2 linked regions of the Homo sapiens genome follow. The protein of the gene in region 2 purifies or fractionates together with the protein of the main gene of each other region. This does not show direct contact. Each region holds a gene or a part of one and is shown on either strand. Other genes may lie near its edges.

What was found.
Region 1: the proteins of ROCK2 (region 2) and FBXO42 purify together in Homo sapiens (affinity purification with mass spectrometry; 2 studies listed by BioGRID and IntAct, with this or other methods). This does not show direct contact.

Annotation. Positions count from the first base shown.
Region 1 is NC_000001.11:16,349,481-16,356,976, reverse strand, and holds the start of FBXO42 (F-box only protein 42), read left to right. Parts: upstream 1-4,496; 5' UTR 4,497-4,722; intron 4,723-7,496. UniProt on the Homo sapiens protein: Substrate-recognition component of some SCF (SKP1-CUL1-F-box protein)-type E3 ubiquitin ligase complex. Specifically recognizes p53/TP53, promoting its ubiquitination and degradation.
Region 2 is NC_000002.12:11,341,633-11,349,392, forward strand, and holds the start of ROCK2 (rho-associated protein kinase 2), read right to left. Parts: upstream 3,005-7,760; 5' UTR 2,505-3,004; coding exon 2,364-2,504; intron 1-2,363. UniProt on the Homo sapiens protein: Protein kinase which is a key regulator of actin cytoskeleton and cell polarity.

The sequences.
Region 1 (7,496 bases), on a different chromosome or scaffold from region 2:
GAAGATTCAGGGTGAAGTGATTCTGTATTTGAACGTATTCTAACATGGTCCAGCAGTTCCAACCCTGACTGCTCAACAGAATCCCTGAGGAGCTTTCAGAAAAGTCTGAGGCCATTGTTTGAGGTGGGCCCTGGAACCTGCATTTTAATTTATTTTTGTAGAGATGGGGTCTTGCTATCTCGCTCAGGTTGATCTCAACTCCTGGCCTCAAGTCAGCCTCCCATGTCAGCCACTGAAAGGGTTGGGATTACCAGCGTGCAACACTGCAACTGGCCATGGAACCTGCATTTTTACTTTTACTTATTTTTTTTTTTTTGGAGACAGAGTCTCACTCTGTCACCCACGCTGGAGTGCAGTGGCATGATCTCAGCTCACTGCAACCTCCACCTTCCAGTTTCAAGTGATTCTTGTGCCTCAGCCTCCCGAGTAGCTGGGATTACAGGCACATGCCACCATTCCTGGCTAATTTTTGTATTTTTAGTAGAGACGGGGTCTTACCATGTTGGCCAGGCTGGTCTTGAACGCCTGACCTCAAGTGATCCACCTGTCTTGGCCTACGAAAGTGCTAGGATTTTTTTTTTACTTTTTTTTGTTACTTTTACTTTTTTTTTGAGACAGAGTCTCGCTCTGTCACACCAGGCTGGAGTGGAGTGATTATAGCTCACTGCAACCTCAAACACCCTGGCTCAATCAATCCTCCTACCTCAGCCTCCCAAGTATCTGGGACTATGCAAGCTACTCTGGAGGCTGAGGTGGAAGAATTGATTGAGCCCGGTTGGAAACTTCCTTCCTCAAAAAAAAAAAAAAAGTAGCATTTAATAGCTGGTCCAGTGTTTCCAATATTGAGCTCTACAGGATATTTGGAGGGGGAAGAGTGGAGTTGGTCACAAGTTCTAGTAATTTTTTTTTTTTTTTTTTGAGACAGTCTCGCTCCGTGGCCCAGGCTGGAGTGCAGTGGCACAATCTCAGCTCACTGCAACCTTCACCTCCTGGGTTCAAGCAATTCTCCTGCCTCCACCTCCCGAGTAGCTGGGATTACAGGTGTGTACCACCAAGCCTGGCTAATTTTTTGTACTTTAGTAGAGACAGGGTTTCAGCATGTTGTTCCCATGGTGGTCTCGAACTCCTGAGCTCAGACAATCTGCCTGCCTCGGCCTCCCAAAGTGCTAAGATTACAGGTGTGAGCCACCGTACCCGGCTCAGTTCTAGTAATTTTTAAGCTTGAGGTTTTTAATGACATGATTTAAAAACTAGATTTAAAAACCAGATTTAAAAATATTTCCTTTACCAGTTATAATTGCCCAATTTCTCTTTTGCAGTAAAATTTCCTAGTTGAAAGACTTGATTTTCTTTATCTTTTCTTTTCTTTCTTTTTTTTTTTTTGAGAGGGAGTATCGCTCTTGTTGCCCAGGCTGGAGTGCAATGATGCGATCTCGGCTCACCACAACCTCCACCTCCCGGGTTCAAGCAATTCTCCTGCCTTAGCCTCCCGAGTAGCTGGGATTACAGGCATGTGCCACCACGCCTGGTTAATTTTGTATTTTTTTTTTTAGTAGTGATAGGGTTTCTCAATGTTGGTCAGGCTGGTCTCGAACTCCCGACCTCAGGTGATCCGCCTGCCTCGTCCTCCCAAAGTGCTGGGATTATAGGCGTGAGCCGCCGCGCCTGGCCAAAACATGATTTTCTTAAATCAATGTTTCTCCCACTGGGATTCCCTGAGTGTATCCCTAGGGGACTTTGCATTATTCAGGTTTGAAGAACGTAAGAATATACTGCTTTCTATTTATTTATTTGAGATGGGTTCCCTCTATCACCCAGGCTGGCGTGCAGTGAGGTGATGATAGCTCACTGCAACCTCCAACTCCTGAGCTCAAGCAACCCTCTGCCTCTGTCTCCCAAGTAGCTAGAACTACAGGTACACATGCCACCATGTCCAGCTAATTTTTCAACTTTTTGTAGGGATGGGGTCTTGCTATGGTGCCCAGGATGGTTTTGCATTCCTGAGCTCAAGCGATCCTCCCCTCTTGGCTTCCCAAAGTGCTGGGCTGACAAGTATGCACCACCGCCTCTGGCTCATACAGCTCTCTATGGGTAAGGGTGACCCAAGTCTGCTCAAAGAGGCCTTGCCCTCCAACTTGAGGGGAACTTGGCTTCTGGCCCAGCCCTATGCCCCATGAGATTTCCTAGGAGGAAACTTTGTAAAATATTTGAAGAGATTTATTCTAAGCCAAATATGAGTGACCATGGCCCATGACACAGCCCTTGGGAGATCCTGAGAACATGTGCCCAAGGTGGTTGGGAAGCAGCTTGGTTTTATACATTTTAGAGAGACATGAGACATCAATCAAATACATTTAAGATATATTAATACAGGGCCAGGTGCAGGGGCGTATGCCTGTAATCCCAGCACTTTGGGAGGCCGAGGCGGGTGGATCAACTGAGGCAAGAGTTCGAGACCAGCCTGGCCAACATGGTGAAACCCCGTCTTTACTAAAAATACAAAAATTAGCTGGGTGTGGTGGCACATGTCTGTAATCCCAGCTACTCAGGAGGTTGAGGCACGAGAATCGTTTGGACCTGGGAGGCAGAGGTTGCAGTGAGTGGAGATCACACCACTGCACTCCAGCCTGGGCGAAGAGTGAGACCCTGTCTCAATAAATACATAAAAAGGCCAGGCGCCGTGGCTCACACCTGTAATCCCAGAACTTTGGAAGGCCGAGGTGAGTGGATCACGAGTTCAGGAGTTTGAGACCAGCCTGTCCAAGATGGTGAAACCCCGTATTTTCTACTGAATTTTGTATTTTCTACTGAAAATACAAAAATTAGCTGGGCACGGTGGCGGGCGCCTGTAATCCCAGCTACTCGGGAGGCTGAGGCAGGAGAATCGGTTGAACCCAGGAGGCGGAAGTTGCAGTGAGCGGAGATGGTGCCACTGCACTCTAGTCTGGGCGACAGAGCAAGACTCAGTCTCAAAAAAATAAACAAATAAATAAAAATAAGTAAATAAATAAATAAAAACTACATTGGTTCGGTGCAGAAAGACCGGAAACTTGAAGTGGGGGCTTCCACATTATAGGCAGATTTAAACATTTTCTGATTGGCAATGAGTTGAAATAGTTATTATCAATAGGCCTGGTGCGGTGGCACACGCCTGTAATCCAAGCATTTTGGGAGGCCGAGGCAAGTGGATTACTTGAGCTCAGGAGTTTGAGATGAGAGTGGACAACATGGCGAAACCCTGTGTCTACAAAAAAAATGGAAAAATTAGCCAGGCATGGTGGTGCCCGCCTGTAGTCCCAGTTACTCAGGAGGCTAAGGTAGGAGGATAGCTTGAGCCTGAAAGACAGAGGTTGCAGCGAACCAAGAACTCATCACTGGACTCCAGCCTGGGCAACAGAGTTAGACCCTGTCTCAAAAAAAAAAAAGTTATTATCAATAGAAATGAATGTCTGGGTTATGATAAGGGATTGTGGACACCAAAGTTTTATCACGCACGTGAAGCCTCCAAGTGGCAGGTGGGCTCCAGAGAGAACAGATTGTAAATGTTTCTTACCAGTCTTAAGGTCTGTTGTGTTGATGTCAATGCTGAAGGATGTAATGAGGCATGTCTCATGTCCTGCTTCCCGTCATGGCCTGAACCAGTCTCTCAGGTTGGTTACATTTTAGACTGCCCTGGCCTAGGAGGAAGTCCGTTCAGATGGTTTGGTGTTGGGGGGGGGGTGGGGGCTTAGTTTTTTGTTTTGTTTTGTTTTGTTTTTTTGGCTTACAGAGTTTAGACTGAAGCCTTTGACTCTGTATCTGGCATTTCCTTAGACCACATGCTGTAGGGCTGGGCTCATGAAGGTTCTCACCTACACACCAGGTTGCTCCCTTGAGAAGGGGGACTTTGCTGGATCCTATAACCTAGCTAGTAGGAAGTAAAGGAGCTTGGGAACCAGACAAGCCTGAGTTTAAATCCTCTTTCCCGCGCCGCCCCACCTCCACTGATAGGTGTGTGACTCCGGGCAAATAAGTGATCGTTTTCTGTGCCTCAGTTTCCTCATCTGAAAAGTGGAGCTAGTAAGAACTCACAGTGGTTGCTACGAGGCTACGGTTAAGGGAAGACTTCTCCTGCACACCTCAAGCACAGTTTCCCTCCCCTTGGCGATATCCAAGAGCACTCACATCCGCCACAGCCCTCTCTGCTCATCGGGCCCTCGGGGTAGAAGTGAGTTAATTCCTGGCTAAATGTTAGTCTCAAACCACCGGGAAAACCACCCAGTTGCCCCAGACAGTGCAGCGGAGGGTGGGTGCGGCTATCAGGTCGACGCTAGAGACGCGGCGAAGGCGGGTGCGGAGGCCTAGCTCCCCCGAGCGCATTCCACCCTCCACAGAACCTCGGCCTGTGACCACGGCCTTTCTCAACACTGCGCCGCCCCCTGGCCGCCCCTCGCCATCCCGCCGCGCTGACGTGAGTGCGCGCGCGTCCGCCGCGCCCGCCCCGGCGCATGCGCGCTCTGCGCTGTCTTCTCCCGGCCTGAGCAGCAGCAGCTGCGGCGGCGGCGGCGTTTGAGTGGAGGAAGATGGCGGCTCCGGGCGGCTCGGGGTCCCGCCAGCTGTGAGGAGCCCCGAGCACGGCTGTCGCGGCCTGAGGCAGAGCGCCTCTGCTCTGGCCCTGTCCCTGGCTCCCTCATTACCGTCGCCAGCGGAGCGAACCCGAGAGCGTGGAGCGGGCTGGGCCAGGTGAGGCCTCTCCTCCTCCCCGGGCCGCAGAGGGGAGCCGGCGCCTTCTGCCCTTTATGCCCGGGACTGGCAAGGGGCAGCGGGCGCCCGGGGTCTGACGCAGGCCCCGTATCCCACGCGGGGGTCGGTCCTGGTTGGGCAGGGTGACTTGCTATCGCCGTCCTCGAGTGAGGCGAGGAGGAGGACAGCTCCTTTCCAGCCAGCCCTTGGGTTGGGAGCGAACCCACCCCCTCTCCTCAGCAGGGTGGTTCTCGTCCCCTCACCCGGGCAGTGAAGGGGTGTGTGGCCCGGGCAAGGATGGCTTTAGGGTGTCAGGTAATCTTTCATCGCTCCTCCGAACATTTCACTCCTTTGCGAGAGAGGAGTCGGGGGTCGGGTGCCCATCAAAATTGGGGCTGCGGCTGGGGGCTAGCATCTCTGAACCTGCAGCTGCAAAGGGATAATTTTGGAATTGGTTTACGTTAAATAAAACACAAAAGGCCTTTCCTATCCCCTAGCTTGTTGAGTGTTCCCTTAGAGAAATGGGAACTGCGGATCTCCTTGCTTGAGACAGCAATCCATGCTGTGACTGTGGAAGGCTTCTCTTGGCGAGAATTGTGTGTGCAAAGGGAACGGTGGAGGGTGGGAACGAATTTGTAAGCGAAGAGAAAACGATTGTGAGATCTTGATGGTCGCTGCAGAGTAACTTCAGCGCTGAGTTCGTTTGAAACCTTCGGTTTGTTAAGATTCAGAATAACCAATTGCTTTGTCTGTTAAATCTCCCGATTTCTGTTAGGAAAATAAAAGCCTCATTTCTTAATTGCCAGAGTCTGGATTTTTCTGTGGTGGGATTCTGATCGATCTAGATGAAGATTCTGACACATTACCAGTTTTACTTGCTGGCAGTTGCTGGCCCCGACGTTGAAACTATGTTGTTCCTTTTTGAGAACAACTTTTATTGCTGTTTAAATGCTAATTGGGAGACTTCGATTGTGTTTCTGTCATGTAGGGAAGTCGGTTTGAAGCCTTGTGGTCTCTTTCTTGAGGAATGATGGCTTCACTGAACTTGTGCTATGCAGAATTGTTGAGGCGATTGCTTTTGCTTGGACACACCAAAATATCTTTTGTAACAAATTGGCTTTACTTCTGCTTAAGAATGATGACATCATGGATTTAAAGAGGCAAGGAAAATTTGGGGGAAGTACCATCATTTAGAATTGAATATTTAGAATTAAGTCTGTATATCTTATGGCCATTAGTGATGCTGTGTTAAATTGCTAACTTTGAGTGTATTCACGTGTGTAATCTGATTGGGTGTCTTTTCTATTGTATGTTGTCATTTTATACCCAGTAACTGTTTGCTTTTGACAAGCCAGTATAAATAGATGATTCAATCTACATTGATCCATAGGCATGTTGCGTATCTTAAAAAGCTTTTCATTGTTAAAATGACAACTGTTTAGGTTATTATTTGACCATTTTCTTTCTTTCTTTCTTTCTTTCTTTCTTTCTTTCTTTTTTTTTTTTTTTTTGCAGTTTCTCACTCTGTCATCCAGGCTGGAGTGCAGTAGCACAGTCTCGGCTCTCTGCAATCTCCATCCCCTGGGTTTAAGCGATTCTCCTGCCTCAGCTTCCTGAGTAGCTGGGATTACAGGTGTGCGCCACCACGCCCGCTAATTTTTTTTTTTTTTTTTTTTTTTTTGTAATTTTAGTAGAGACGGGGTTTCACCGATGTTGCCCAGGCTGATCTCAAACTCCTGGTCTCAAGCGATACCCTGCCCCACCCCAGGCTTGAGCCACCGTGCCCAGCCTCCTTTTCTATTTTTAAATCAAAGACTTTTCCATAGAAATTTGTCGATTTTCTTAGTGTCTTTGCTAAAGATGTAAATCTGAACCAGCAGCTTCTCTGTGGTAGAAAATTGGAGAGCTACTTTGCATATCAATTTGCTAATAAAGAGTCATGAAATTAATGCAGTAAAACATCCTGGTGGCTCATCATTATGCTTCTTGGCATAATATGTTGCACTGTTATGCTAAATCATCATCAGGTATTGATGCAACTTCATGACATCCATGACATCATTTGCTCTCCAGATTTTGACCTTTGCAATTCCTTACCTTAGTTACAAAAAGAACAGGATCAGAAAAAAAATAGCTTAGGATGCTTCTTCTTGTCTGATTTCTAGAGGGGTCTTTAATAACAGCTTTATGTGGTTTAAACCCTGAGTAAGATTCAGAGCAGGGTGAGTCCTACCTATTATGGAGAGCAAGCAAAGAAAATGCTAACAAAACGTCTGAGTTTTATGAGAACACTGAGGTCCCAGGGAGAAGCTATCTCAAAGATGAACAAATACGTAATTATCTTTGTGATTTCAGAATTGTTTTAGTCAATGAATTAACTCTTTTTGTTTGTTTTTTGAGACATAGTTTTGCTCTTGTTTCCCAGGCTGGAGTGCAATGATCTCGGCTCACTGCAACCTCCACCTCTCCGGTTCAGGCGATTCTCCTGCCTCAGCTTCCTGAGTAACTGGGATTGCAGGTGCCTGCCATCATGCCCAGCTAATTTTTTGTATTTTTAGTAGAGACAAGGTTTCACTATGTTGGCCAGGCTGGTCTTGAACTCCTGACCGCAGGCGATCCACCTGCCTTGGCCTCCCAAAGTGCTGGGATTACAGGCTTGAGCCACTGCGCCCGGCCCTGAATTAACTCTTTATAAAACCAGAAGCCATTTGATTAAATAAAGCCCTTCCCACGATTGTTAATGTGGATCAGAAAAGATAGTGTTCGTGAAAGTG
Region 2 (7,760 bases):
GTAGTGTCGCAGCTGTGTTTGCTTTAAATTATATTCCTTTAAATTTTCTGTTAAAGACAAAATATGTATTTCCCATGGCAAAACCAAAAAATAAATGTCATAGGCAGTAAAACAATGACCAATAGTGAAATGCAACCTAAATGCTAAGGTTTCAGATCTTTAAAGTGATACCAGCCATTATTTCGTCAGTATTTCAGGAAATATAATTTTTATAACATTCTTTTAAACATTAATTTACAGTTTCAGTTTGGAAAAATGAAAAGATTCCAGAGACGGATAGTGGTGATGGCTGCACAACAATGTGAATGTATTTAATGCCTGCCACTAACCTGTACACTTAAAAATGGTTAAAAATGGTAAATTCTGTATACGCTACCACAATAAAAAATCCATTCTAGTAGTTCATAAATAAAATACGCGTAATTTAAAATTAATTTATTATAAAAAAATTTTTAAATTTCGTTTATCAATTTGTAACAGAAACACCAGGAACCTTGCTCCAAAGGAATAAGGGACGCATTTTGGCTTGGAAAGGTTTACTGCACCTCAAGCATATTTAACCAACTAGAAACAGCAATAACAGAGTCTGTCAAGTCATCAGCACCTGATGTCAATTCTCAGATCCGTAATGTGCCACCTTAATAAAAGTGTGTTTTGGCTGTAATAACTGCTAAATGAATGAACTGTGTCCTGAACATGTGAGATGTTTCACTTTTAAAAATAGCCTCCATTTTAATAATTTGGAAAGCAATAAAACAAAATGCATGATCATATTACATGTATAAGCTACTTACATTCAAGCTCAGAATAACTCTAATAATTATGATTAATATCATTAAAGATCTAAGATATCAAAGTGAATTGCAAAACGTTTCCATCTAGGATTTAGCATGAACCTGATGAATACTTGAGATTTGCTGTACTATTTTTAACTAAACTTTCTGGCCTTAGGTCAAAGTTTTGCTAGCAAAATACCAAAGTGAAAATGCTGGGAGTGCAGCCCAGAGTCTCCGCTTTAGCCTAGGAAAAGCTATGCCATCCATGCAAGCAATCTTACTCCCGATTAAAGACTTTCAAAGACTGCTCCCATTAAAACATAGGAACAACACATTAACCCGAAAAACAGTAAAACATCAAACACATGTGACACAATATAGCACATCATTCATTACTTTCTGTACACTGTGCAGAAAGACACTATATAGCTAAAGTCAGTTCCTGCATTTTGACCAAACAGGACTGAGTCACTCTGCAAACGATGCCTGAAACCTCAAAGGATAACCAACCGCCTCTGACCAAAAGCCAGTCCGTCCGTCCCTGGAAAGGGAGGAGGCAGTTTTTCTCATCATACAGTAAGGTTTATTCCAGGAGGGAATAGAACTAAACATCTGCATTCCAGCACAGAATGTCTAACGGATCTAAGGACCTCCCACCCTAGTTCTAGTCTTCCAGAGTCAATTTAATACACAGAGTATCGTTTTCACCTTTCTTCCCCTCCCCAGGGTAAAAGTCCACACCCCCTTTTCCCATAAATGCATCTACACTGCACACTACTCAAATTGCGAAATACAATCATCTATCCTAACAAAAATAAGAAATAAGCCAGCATTCTACGGTGCATTTCTATTTTGTAAAACATGCTCCTTTCTTAACCAAGAGCCAATTAGCAGCCTTTACGGTGCTATTAATCTGGATTTCAAAGGTCGTTATAGGAAAGAGACGCAATGAAGAGGACAGATTTATTCCACTCCACAATTCAGACTGATTTTTTGGCTCTGGCGCAATAATCTCAGGGAATTAAATTTACAGCAATTAAAATGCACTAAATAGCAAGTATGGAATGCTCAAACGCAAGTGAAAACAGCAAAACTTTAGCTGTGTGTTCCAAGATTTCAGACTAAAAGGAGAGAGTGAGGGCGGCTCTTTGTCATGTACCCCAGTGAGTACTCGCAACAGGGACAGCATCAGGTTTCTTTCTCCCTCGCTCGCACCAAGTCCCCACGTAGCATGACACTTTCAAATCAGCTAACCTGGTGTATGAAGCATGGCCAGTCCTCCACCCACCTCCCCAGAGTGGGCAGGCGGAAGGAGAAGAGGGGTGTTTTCCTCCCAGTGCTGCAAGAAAGGAGCAGCCGGGGATGACACTGGCTCCAGCAGGAGGTAGAGGGAGGAATCAAAGGCGGGTCACTACTCTTGGAACTCGGTGACAGAATCGTTTGGTCTCCGGCCCCGGCTGCCGGAAGCAGGGCGGGGTGGGGCAAGACCTCCCCCTCCCCACGGGCGGACGGGCACGGAGGGCTGGGCGGAGAGGGGATCTGAGGTGTGAGCTGCAACGAGCAAGCTCCCAGGCCCCGGCCACCTACCAGCAAGCTCTCCACGTTGATGGGGGAGCGAGGGTCTCGGATCAGCGCCTCCAGCTTCCTCTGGCGGCTCGCGCCTGCCCCGTCCCCCGGCGCGGTCTCGGGGGCGCCGGGCATTTTCCCCGTCGGCGGGGGCCGGCTCATGCCGCCACCGCTGGACCCGCACTCAGGCTCCTCGCGCTCAGGTCCCGCAGCCTCGGGGCCTAGCACCGCCCCCGAACCACCAGCTCCGGCCGGGACTCCACCCGGGCCCACCGCCTGCCTCTAGCTCCGGCTTCGGGTCTCCAAGGCGGTCCCCCGCCTGGGGGCTGCTCCCAGGGGCCCGCCCGGCCCAGCCCGGCCCAGCCCGGCCCGGCCCTGCCGGGAGCGGCGGGGAACAGACGGCGTCCCCGCCCCTCAGTCAGATTCGCGCCGCCGGTCCGCTGGTCCTCAGCGAGTGCCCGCAGGAGTCCTCGGGCGGGAGCAGGGAAGTGGCGCCGCCACCGCCGCGGCCCGGACCGCCCCGCCCTCTGGGGCCCCGGGAGGCTGAAGCCCAGGCCTGGGCCACTACGGCCGCCGCCGGCCCGCTGCCATGGTCGCCGCCGGCCGCCTTGCAGTCCCTCAGCCAGCTCCCGGCGCACACACTCCCGCGCGGCCGCCCGTCTCCGGCCGCGCGCCGCCGCTACCCACAAGCCCCTCCGCCCGCAGCCGCCGGCGCGCGTCCCCGCCGGCCCTGCGCGCGCTCCGCCCCGCCCCGCCCCGCGCACCGCGCTTCCTCCCTTTCTTTCCCTTCCTGCGTCTGTCCCGCTCCGCTTTCTCCTCTGCGCCCCTTCCTCGCCCGCCCTCGCCTCCTCCCCCTGGCGAGGTTCTCTGAGGCGAATAGCCGGGCGCGCGGTCACGGCCGAGCTCCTGCTGGGGGAGGGGAGACGCACCCAGGCCGGGTCCTTCCGCGCGCCCCCTGCCCCTCCCGCCGGACCCCGCGGACTACCCCGCGGCCCCGAGGCGGAACCCCAGACGCCGGGCCCAGCGCACCGTGCGCTGGGGGGGAGCCCGGCCGCGCCCCCCGCCGCGGCCCCCGCTGACTCAGCGCGCAGCTATGCGGGCCTCGCCTCACCCGCGCCCAAATAATAGCGACCGAGCTCGGCGCCCGCGAGGGGCCGCAGGGCCGGGGGTTTCGAGGCGAGCCTGAGAGGGGGCCCTGGGTGTCTGGGATTCCGAATTAGCGGAGGCGGGTGGAATCCTAGTCCTGGGGCAGGAGGGCCTGGGATCCTGAAAGCGTTTCTGCCCGGCTTAGACACTAACCACTTCAAGAGAACGGGAGAGCACCGGAAAAAGGCTTTCCAGCCGCAGGCCTTCGCGGGGTCTTCTCCTTTTGGGGGGCGGAAGAGGGGTGGTTATCGGGACCGTTCCGCCGCATTCCTGCCCTCTCGGCGGCCGGTGCCATCGCTTAGATCCGCCCAGGGCGCAATCCGAAAATTATGTGCCAAGAGCTATAAAACCGTTCATAGAGCCCCTTTGACCCAGTAAACCCATTTAAGGAAGTACATTTCCAAGGAAATGATCCAAAGGGCGAAGAAGGGGGAGAACTTGCAGAAAGATGTTAACAGCAGGGCTATTCACAATGTTCGTGATGACCAAAACCTGGGAATGGGCCCAGTTGTCCAACAATTGAGTAACCCAAACAGGCGCCTTCACATTAACAGCAAGAATCCTGGCAGGTATGCAGACTGTGTCAAACATGAAATTTTGGCAAGTACATGAGAAGGTATATTAGAAATAAATGAAACAAAAAAAATCGTTTGTACACACTAAAACTATGTAAAATGAGCAGCTATAAGAACCAGAGAATACAGTACTTCTTAAATAAATGGGATTTTTTTCTGTAAAGATACTTAAGAACAAATTAAATTTCAAAAAATGGAAAAACCACTCCGAAAAGCAACAATCTGATATCCATTAAGTAATAAGAATGTTAAGAACTGTCTCCCTGGCATGTCAGAGATAAACCCGAAGATAGGGTGAAGCCCCAGCCCTGTAAAAGTTGCATTTTGATCCAAACCATTGGATTAGTTGGAGCCTCTTCTTTGGTTTTAGGTTAGTTAAAACCACCCCTAGCTGGACTCATGCAGGAAGAGGCCCCGATGATCCATCCAATGCAGCTTTTCCCTTTCAGATAGTAACACTGACTTCACATCCAGAGAGTCCTTTAAGTCTGTGTATTGAGCTACTCATTCAGACCTCCACAGAGGCCACCAGGAGAACAGAGGGAGCTAGACACTCCCACTTATGCATTGGAGCAAAATAATGAGATAATCTATGATTATGGATTATTTTTCTGATGACAAAATAATATGCAAGGCAAAAGGAGCACTCTGTCTAGCGGGGCGTGGTGGCCTGTGCCTGTAGTCCCAGCTCCCCCTGAGGCTGAGTTGGAGGCCTCCTCCATTGAGCCCAGGAGGCCAAGGCTGCAGTGAGCTGTGATCACACCGCTGCACTCCAGCCTGGGCAACAGAGTGAGATTGTCTCAAAAAAAAAAAAAAAAAAACACTGTGGTTCTCAGTTTCCAAATTAATTTTGACTGGTTGTATATTTGTATGTAGCTTGGTGGAATAACAGGAAGCCATGGTCCAAATACCGAACATGAAAACCTTATTTTAAGAGTAGTGATCAACAAGATATATATCCTGGGCATGTTCTACATATACTTATTTATATAGACCAGAAAAAGCCATGGTACAGAAGATTTTTACCCAAGACCTATCCCATTGTCTACCTGGAAGAAGAGAAAATGAATCTGTTGATATGAGTTAAACCTTTTTGCAGGATGGGGTAAGGGTAAGGAGGAGGTTAGTACAACAATTCTTGTTTTCAAAAGTAATGCACAAATGCATTCTTGTAAAAGTTCAAACGAACCAGAAATATATGGAACATAATCTAAAATTTACTGTTCTGACTATATTTCCACATACATTCTTATATCACTCAAGGCCTTTGGCCATTCTCATACATATGTATTATAGATACATGTTACCTTTTCCCCACAGACATGAAATTATACCATATCATGGTGTTTGGCAACTTGGTTTTTTCCCTTCATTACTAATATGTCCTAGAGGCGTGTCCATGTCTATAGGCAGAGATCTGCTTCATTCCGCTTACCTGCTGTCCTCTACTCCCCAGTTTGGATGTGCCACACTGTAATTATTCTCTATTCGAGAGCATAGTGGTTAAGAAACAATTGCCAAAATCCTGCCCCAAACACACACTTGCCATGTGACCCTGAGCAAGTTACCTAACTCCTCTGTGTCTCGGGGTCCTCACAATATTTGTTATAAAGTGCTTAGAAATGTGCTGGCCCTCAATCAATGCTAGATATTATTAATATTTTCTCACTGTTAAAATGATCCATTGACATCCTCGTATCCTCATATTTGAATAGTATAGATTCCTAAAAGTGGAATTGTCATAACAAAGGGTAGGCATACTGTAAATACAGATGCTGCCAACCTGTTATTTATTTATTTATTGGAGGCAGGTTTACATTCTGTCCTTCAGGCTGGAGTGCAGTGGCACGAGAGATCTTGGCTCACTGCAACCTCCACCTCTAGGGCTCCAGCAGTCCTCCCACTTCAGCCTCCTGAGTAGCTGGAACTGCAAGCACACAACACCATGCCTGGCTAATTTTTGTATTTTTTGTAGAGACAGGATTTTGCCTTGTTGCCCAGGCTGTTCTCTAAGTCCTGAGCTCAAGCGATCCACTCACCTCAGCCTCCCAAAGTGCTGGGATTACAGGGGTGAGTCACAGAGCCGGGCCTCAACCTGGCCTTTAAAAAGACGCTACCCGTTTACATTCTCAGCGTGAGTAGAAGAAACTGCCCATGTCCCTTCACCTTTCCCAGTATTCAATATTATATTTTTAATTGTTGTCAATAAAATGGGCAAAAAACGCCATCTTGTTCTGACTTGTATTCCCTTAATTACTACTGAAGATAGGCATTTTGTCTATCTATTTCTTCTGCAATTACCTGTTTATATCTTTTATCCATTAGTTTTGTCTCTTTTTATTATTTATAAGAGCTCCTTATGTATTTTGGATATTCCTTTTTGTTATATTATAATAGAATATATTAAAATATGTTACAGTTTGTGAAGATTTTTTTCCAGTCTGTTGCTTGTCATTCAGTTTTGTTTTTTACCTGTTATGCGGTCAAATCGGTTGATATTGTCCTCTACAGCTTCTGGGTTCTGTATCTGTGTTAAGGAGGATTTCCAACCCAGTTTTTAGGTCACACAGAATACTGGAATTGCAACAGGTTATGAGGAAATGGCAGTTTCCTAATATTCTCAGCTCAGCTCATCCCAAATTAGCTGTGGAAGGGGGTTCCCTGGGCTTGCTGGTCTCCAAGGGAACTCCTGCTGTGACTCCTGTTGCCACGCGACTCGGGCCAGGGTTGACTGCTCCTTTCTAACAGAGTCCCCAGTGTGTCCTGAGCACAGTTGAGACAGGCAGGAACTTGGACAGAAACTTTTGTTCAATAGTAAGGAAGAACAATGGAAAAATAAACACGGAAAATACAGGGCATTTAACCAGGCTGGCCTATCAATGGATAAGGCTTGGATTGCACCATAACTGTTCATAGCTTGCTCTGCAGAACTTAGAAACTCCACTCCGTTTCATATGAATTTCTTTTCTCTGTCTCTTCATTCCCAATGGTCTATTTGACATCCACTACCCAGCAATGCCTTCCTAGCCCTCCTGATGCTTCCTCACCCAGACTGAGGGTCCAGGCCTCCTTCTTTTCTCTGAGATCCATCTCCTCAAGTTTCAGTTTTTTATTTGAGGAATCTGCCTCTTCCTCAAGAATTAATTCACCTTTCAGATGCAACTTTACCCTCTCCACCCATAGCTAGTGCTGGAAAAGGACCATTTTTGTCTTTTGACCATGTGGCTTTTGTAATTACTCTTTTAATTATAACTATTATTTTAAGGACTAACTATGTGCTAGGCAGCACGCTTTATAGAGATTATCTTAATTCTTGAAACAGCCTTTTGCTTACGGTAATATTACTATGCCCATTTTACAGGTGATGTAATGAGGACTCATATATATGCACATGGAGTGAATAAATGAATTAAGGAATGGATGGGTGAAAACAACGAACTGTGAATGGTCCAGCCATCACCAATAAGACACGTAACAACTTTTCCCATCTCGCTTCACGCTGCCAGGCAACGCAGGCTGGCATTGTTGTAGTGAGTTGCTTCTGTTCCACACAAGCCAGGATTTAATAACAGAATAAAGGAATGAACTCGCAATACAAAGGTGTCATTATCTTTGTAAACTCCTCTACTATAAAGGGTACAGGGTTTAATGGTTTATGAAATAGAGTTTCATCCTAAGTTTCATTCATGGTTCTGGT